Homo sapiens: one gene and its partner. The protein of the gene in region 1 interacts with the protein of each later gene in a biochemical or structural test. Each region holds a gene or a part of one and is shown on either strand. Other genes may lie near its edges.

The links. Proteins that work in one complex are often made in the same cells at the same time.
Region 2: the proteins of ALK (region 1) and PTN form a complex in vitro, tested with the Homo sapiens proteins (one study listed by BioGRID).

Annotation. Positions count from the first base shown.
Region 1 is NC_000002.12:29,919,522-29,923,268, forward strand, and holds the start of ALK (ALK tyrosine kinase receptor isoform 1 precursor), read right to left. Parts: upstream 2,066-3,747; 5' UTR 1,139-2,065; coding exon 472-1,138; intron 1-471. UniProt on the Homo sapiens protein: Neuronal receptor tyrosine kinase that is essentially and transiently expressed in specific regions of the central and peripheral nervous systems and plays an important role in the genesis and differentiation of the nervous system.
Region 2 is NC_000007.14:137,341,607-137,345,353, forward strand, and holds the start of PTN (pleiotrophin isoform 1 precursor), read right to left. Parts: upstream 2,128-3,747; 5' UTR 1,833-2,127; intron 1-1,832.

The sequences.
Region 1 (3,747 bases):
AGATTCAATAATATGAAGAGAAATTCTATATTCCCTGAGAAGGTACCATATTTCCCAAATCTGTGCTGGCCAGGAACAAGAGGGAGAGAAGGGCAATAGTTTTGACATCTACTACTAAGCTTGGAACCTGGAAGTAATCGGGGCATTTCAACTGTCCCGGGGCCCAGGAAGAGGGGCGCCCAATTTTGTCTCGGACAGCGTATAAGTCCAGAGAAGAAGGCGCTCTGCCAAGAGTATGAAACTTTTCCCCCAACTTGGTTGCTAAAGAGGAAGGAAGACCCCTGAACTGCGTTCAGGGAGAAAACAAGAAACTACGGTCTGATTCGGGAAGGAGGTTTGCGGGAGGAAGGAGGGCGATGAAGCAGAGCTGAGGTTTTAGAAAGTGGGGTGGAAGTGAAGATTATTTAATGGTTGCATATCAATGTGACTAAAAACACTAAATCCCGGCACACTCAGGCGGGAGCTGCTCACCAGTCCCGAAGATCTGGAAGAGAAGGCGGGGCTGGGAGGCGCGAATTGCCGCGGACAGCCTTCCCTCTCTGCCCACTTCCGACGCCTTCTTCTCGGGCATCAGGCGGATCCTCAGTCGCCCTTCGCCTTGGCGAATCCACCAACTGAACAGCTCGCTGAGATTGAACTGGAGCAGCCCCACAGCCGCCTCCCCGGGGGGCCCGACGCAACCCTCCAAGATCGCCTCCTCGCCCAGCTCCAGCACCAACTGCTTGGCACGCCGGAGCTTGCGCACGGAGCCGCCCTTCAGCACCCTGGACAGCGTCCGGGCCTCTGCCGGGGCTGGTGAACCGGCGGTCCAGGAGACCCCCGGCGCCGGCCCCAGCAACCTGAGCAGCGGGGCGCAGTCCAGAGCTAGCGAGCCGCGGGCCTCGGGCCTGCCAGCCTTCAGCTCCGAGGAGGATGGTGGCAGCAGTAGGTCCCGGGCGTAGACACGGAAGAGCGAGGGCACCACGAAGTCAACTGCCAGACTCTTCCTCTGCAGGCGCGAGTAGCTGAGTGGCTCCCGGGGCTGCAGCGGCGGCCCCGCAGCTGGGGAGCCCGCGCGCTGGCCGGTCCCCATCCCGGAGCCCACAGCTGCCGTGGAAAGCAGCAGCGGCAGGAGCCACAGGAGCCCGATGGCTCCCATCCCGCCGGAGGAGGCCGTTTACACTGCTCTCCGGGCCCAGCCTCACCCTTCGCTCTCCCCGAGATGGGAAGAGGCTCTGAACAGTCCTTGGTACCCAGCGGCTCCTTCCACCTGATCTCCAGAGGACTGTGCGTGCGCGCAAGTCTCTTGCTTTCCCCCAACTGCACGGAGGCGAGCAGGAGTCTAAATGAAACAGACCTGGAAGCTCAGGGGCGAGTCCAGAGACACTCAAGCACACTGGGCTCACTGGCTGGGACCTTGAGCCTCCCGCTCTCCGCGCCGAGTGCCGCGCCCCCGTCTGTAGCTCGCTGCGCTCGGTACAGAGGAACTACTATGGTTGAAGGGAGGTGGCAGTTGGGTACCGTCCTCTCCTGCCCCCCGCAGTCGGAGCTGGGGTCTGTCCCCTCTCGGGGCAGCCTCCAATCTCTGCAACTTTTAAGGCTGAGAACGGCGGCTCCCAGCTGCTGCACGCTGTCCTGGCCGCCTTTTGCGTTCCTTTTGGCTCCTCCAAGCTCTTCTGCCCGGTCTGGGCGGGAACCGAGGGCGGAGGCTGCCGTCTTGCGCACCCTCAAGCTATCTCTCCGCTGCGGGAAGGCTTCGGACTGTCTGCCTGCTGAACTTCTGGGCGTGAATCCCAGCCCCCGCGCTGCGCAAGTTTGCAGCGTCCTTGCTCTCACCGGCGCCTCGGCTCCTCAGAGTTCGCAGGCACTGGAGCGGCCCCGGCGGCAGCAGCTGAGGGCGTTCAGGGCAGGGGCGCCCGAAATCTTGCCGCCCCCTCCTCACCCATCATCAGCGCCCGCGGCTTTGGGTGGCCGACCAGAGGGCGGCCGGAAAGCACCTCGGTGCCCCGCGACCCTCCGAACAGAGGCGGCGGGAGGTACCAGCTGCTACCACCGCTGCCGCCCCCAGAGCCGCTGGATCGCATCTGCCTGGGCGCCCGCCACTTGCAGCTGGCTGAGCCGCGCGAGCGCGCGCAGGGAGGGGGCGGGGCCCGGAGGGGGCGGGGCTCACAAGCCAACTCCGCGCTGCTGCCCGACCCACGCAGTCCGGCCTCGCCCCGCCCCACCCGCACCCTCCAACCAATGGCGTGGCTCGATCGGCTCCTATGCAAATCTGCAGAGGCCTCGGCATTCATTGAGAAAAGGAGTGAGCCCGCCCCACCCTCCCTCTGTTCCCTCTCCAGTCTCTTGTTCTTCCCCTCCTCTAGATTCCCTGCCCTATTTCTCTGCAGTGTGAAAGGGAGCAAATGTGAGAACTGGAAGAGGCCTTTGCAATCAAGCACTCTCCCTAATTATACATTTAAGAGATTAAACGGGTCCGACTTCGGAAAAACAGGTTCCAGAATAAAACTGGAGGAGAGGGGAAGGGAGGGGGGAGTGGGAAGGGAGGAGGAAGTGGGGAGAGGGTGGCAGCGCGACACTGGCAAATCTGAGAACAGCTTGTATTAAGGCCCTGAGACAGAATATTTTCTGACCCATCTATTATTTGAATGCATTCCTGGGAGCTTAGGAGTCCTGCCGTCCACACAGGAGAATTTGGGAATAGGGGGGCAGAGAGGGATGGATGGTCTTGGTCTGGCAGAGTTGTTCTGCAGCTACAACAAATACCTTTCAGACCCCTGTCAGTCGCTCTGTTTTCTCAGAATGGTGTCTGAACATGTGTAACCTCCCCTAGTCTCTGTAAGGCAAACATTTTAATTCCAGATTTACAGATGCAGAAACTGAGTTGCAGAGCATTTAATTGTTTGCCCACAATCTTGGGAATGAGGGTTCAGAACCTTAGGCCTTTTTTACTCACCTGTAATGGCTGTACCTCTCCTCTCCCTTTCCTTTCGTCTCTCCTGAGCTGCCAACACAGAACTCATAATAGCTGTTTTTATAACAAGTGGTTCACTAGATCCTCAGACAAAACTACCATCTTTGGGTCACACAAATCCCCTTGATTCCTTCTTAAAGGCTGGTTGTCAGGCCTTGGGCTGACTGTTGAAGCTAAGAATAAGGCAAGATCCTCTCTGGAGCTCACGGCCTGTCGGGTAGCACAGGAGTTTTCTCACAGGATCAGAGCACAGTGTCACATTGAACCTCCCTCACTGAGCTCCTGGGGGCCGCAGTAACTTGCCTACCACCCCACAGGAGATAGTGGCCAGGTGGAACCTCTGTTCTCCTAGGAGCTGGGCCTTTCCAGCTTTGTGGCAATGCCTTGGCAAGTGGAAGACCCAGTAACAAAGGAATATTGATTCTCGGAATGGCTTTCTTCCTGCTCTATGTTTGGCAACTCACTTAATTTGACAGGCATCTGCCCTCTCTCTGGAAGTCACACTGGATACACTGACTTTACAAGTTTCAGGGCAAAGAATTATCTCACCCGAGAAGAAAATATGCTCCTATCTTGGTGGAGGAAGGGTGGAAAAGAAAGAAAAGAGGGAGGAAAATGCTATGGTAGTTAATACTTTCCTGGTACAATATATGTTTGATTTTCATCAGATTTTTCTGACATACCTACTGGAAGAGGAATTTTTATTTGAAATATGAAAAAAGACTAAAACTCCAGCCTTTCCCTATTTCTCTATACAATTCTTGACCAAAGGCATTACTGACTCCAGTTAATTT
Region 2 (3,747 bases), on another chromosome or scaffold:
TCTAGCTTTGAGAACATAATGCATTTGCATCCAGAAGCAAACAGCTGGAACACAGCACCTAATGCTGTTATATGTGGCTTCAGGTGGGAGTTCCTTATAGTGGCTTTTCACTAAATGCAGAAAAAGATGTCCTAAAGGGAACCAGTGAGCAGTGGCAGAAAAAAGATCACCTTCTATTTATTTAAAGTACAATTAGAGAACTTAAGGCCCAAGTTTCTTAAAGCACAAAAGGATGGCATTAGAGTTTTTTTTAAATAATATAATTTTTTAAAATCTCATCTTCTAATTTAAATGAAAAAGTACAAATATTGCCAGTCTGAAATAACTCATGTCCCAAAGGAAGAAAAAAATATTCATTCTAATTTCCTCTGAATTTAACTGGACTATATTTTTTAAACGACTTGGCCTTTAAAGTGCATAATTTACTTAAAAGGAAACATAATGAAGATGGAAAATACAGCTTTATTTTCTGTGTTGGGAGACTTCTCTTTTGTTTCATTGTCATTAACTTTCAATATTTCTACATATCAATGCATTCCCGGATAATTAAGGGGCTAAAATGGGCCCTGCTGTTTCATCAATTCCACATTTGCCTAGGATCATAAAATGTTTCATTATGTTATTAGTCCAGAGCTCTTTTTGGTGATTTCTAAATCTCCTCCCAGACCCCTCTCTCTAGCACACACACACGCACATGCACACGCACACACACACATCACCCCTTTCTCAAGCTGCTAAAGCAAAATGCCTGATAACTCTTAAAATGAGAGATGCTCAAGGACCGCAGCTTTAATATTTTCTCCTCTTAGCACCCCTACCCCTCCTATTTTCTGAATGTGTCCCCAAACTTACAAAGCAGCTCTTAACAGACACAAGGGTGAGTTAACACTAGAGTGTATATAAACTGCATGTGTGTGTTCCTGTGTGTGTGTGTGTGTGTGTTGTGTCACATTATGTCATGGAGAAAGGGGTGTGTGTGTATGGAGAGGAGAGAGGAGGTTTCACTTTCCATCTATTAAGAAAGGAGTTGAATACATTCCTCTCAAAAAATGTTTTCTTAACTTATTAGAAACAACAACTCAGAAACTCTAAATATCTAGTAAATTAGTAACAAATATATCCTAAATTTATGTGGGTCAAATTAAAAGTTTAAGGGTCTATGTACTGGGCAGTTCTTTAAATTTGCATTCAAATGAGAGATGGGACTCCAGGTGTGTCTTCTAAACTTTGGACCTAACCATTTCTGGAACCATTCCTGGGCTGTCAGGTGGGAAGACGGGTGCCAGTAGTTCCGTGAGAGACGTTTCATGTCAGCTAGCACTGGGAGGAACAAGCCCCCACAGCTTACCTAGAAATGCCAGCTAAGAGTCATGGGCTGACAGGCTCTGGGGCAATCAGAGAATCAGAGAGAGGCTGGGAAAATGAGAGCTGCTTGTTCAGGCTGCCTTACTTTCTTTGCACCTACCCAGCCAGAGACACACCTACTAAAGCTCCAGGTTTTACAAAAAGCAAAGATGCACTCTCCAGCCCACCCTGTCTTGCTCTCCAGCTGGTAGCTGGAACACGGTCCAAATACATGCTTAACATCACAAAAACTTCTTTCCTTTCACTTACCTAAGCACACCCGAACTAACCTAACCTGAAACCCCAAAAATATGCCTCCCTTGGCCTCTGGAGCAAGTCAGTTTTGAAAGCAGTCCTATCAGCAAAGACACCAGGCAGCCTCTCTCACCCCTACCACCATCATCTGCTGGCACCCAGAAAAGTGGCACAGGGTGAAGGCAAACTCGATCGAAGAGCCCTCCGAGAAATCGTACGTTCCTCTCACTTACTTTGAGTTGGAAACGTCCTCTCTGGCGCTCAGTCTGCCTTTGTTGCAAGGGGCGAGGTTGCTACCGCTGAGTCCAGGTACCCGGCTCGCTGCAGCTCCTGCTTGGGCCGCTGCTGCTCTCCCCGCCTTCTGGACGGATGACTCACTGGTCTCTTTCTTCCCCTCTCTCCACTTTGGATTTTCCTCTGCTCTGGGGCTCTCTTGGCGGGATTTTTGGACTGGAAGGCGGGGAACCTGATCCTGCCTTTGACTCAATTACGCCCTGACAGGGAGGGAACGGAAGGGAAATGGAGAATGGGAGGGATGAGAGGAGCGGGCCAGGAGGACGAAGGCTGGGCGAGGGAGGGAGAGCGCTTTGCACTCGAGAGCTGATTGGGAAGCTTATTAAAAGCAGAATACTCCAGGGGCAGTCTCTCCCTGCGGAGCAAGAAAACGGATTTGAACCAAGAGGCCATGAGATGGTACCTTGTTTTGTTTTTAGCAGAGACGAAACACAACATTTCTTTTCCAAACTCCACCCATGATCTATTCTTCAGATGAGTGCAAAGCCACTTTGCCAAATAGGATATTTTAAATGGACAATTGATGGCATTTTAGGTTACATTTTTGGCCCCCCACAATCCTTTAATGATATTCAGAATGGAAAAGCACTCTCTTCAAACCAGCCTCTTCTTCCACCCACGAAAGCCCTCTCTAAACACAGAGACAGTAAGGTGTCAGTCACATCTCACCTGCAAAGCACAAAATGTACAAAGTACTTTTTCTCAATTGTCACAAAGAGTGACAGACGTCTCAAAGTTCCCAATTAAGTGCTACTTACCTTTAGGGAGAGCTCTTTCCTTTTTTGGTTTCCTTGGTGCCTTTAGCAACCTATTTAGTAACATGCCTTTGACACCCAAGAATTTAGAGGATTCGTCAAAGTAGCTCAAACTCTGAGGTTTGTAAAACTTGGAGGCTGGGCTTTGCGTCTCTGGAATTGTCATTTCATTCAATACAGGAAAGACGCTAAGGCAATGCATAGGTAAATATTTATGATAAAGATGAGATAAAAGTATTGTGTAAAAGGATTAAGATGTATTATACAAATTCACCCAAACATTTTCGAAATGTAAATTTCGAGATTTTCTGCCACTTATCAGCTTTTCCTGCTCCGTGGCTAGCTCCTTTTACCTACTTTTACCTTTACTGGTCAGCTTATCATTTGATGGCGTCCTTCCCAAATTGGTTGTAAAATAGACCACATTTTTCATAATTCTGAGGTTACATCCCTTCATTTCAATTTGACAAATATTTATTAAGCAATTTGTTTACTTAGAACTATCCTTAAATCCCCAAATTAGAAGCATTGTCTTGTGGCAAGTAGTTTTTAGGGACTTGGGGCTCTTCTATTGACAGCTACCTGTAGAAATGTCCCTTGGAGAAGTTGACTGGAGCCAGACGTGGCTCTACAAACTCAATCAAGCAGTCAATCAAGCTTTTCAAAAGGAAAGGCATCAGAGATGCACTTACACACCTACAATTTATCCCCCTTCCCAAACTCTTCATATACATACCACATACAATTCTCAAATGAAATAACTAAATAAGGAAGCTGTGTTCCTTTCTCCTACACACAGGCTTCAGGTTACCTGTTTTCCTTTTGTGATTCCACTTCTGTGTGAAGCAAGCAGTGCTTGTTTTAATCAGATTTCACCTGTATAAAGTGTGGAGAAACGCACATTAGCATTTTTTTTTGGCATTTTTCCCAGTCCCTTTACCAAAAAAGATATCTCAGCATTCTATTAACACTCCATAGGGGCAAAGTTTCTAAGGCATTGAACAAAGAGCTATCCATTTTCTTTCTGTTCTTCAGCTTTATGTTAACATATACAAATGTAACATACAGCTAGCTACCAGTTAGGTGAACAATGCTGGCT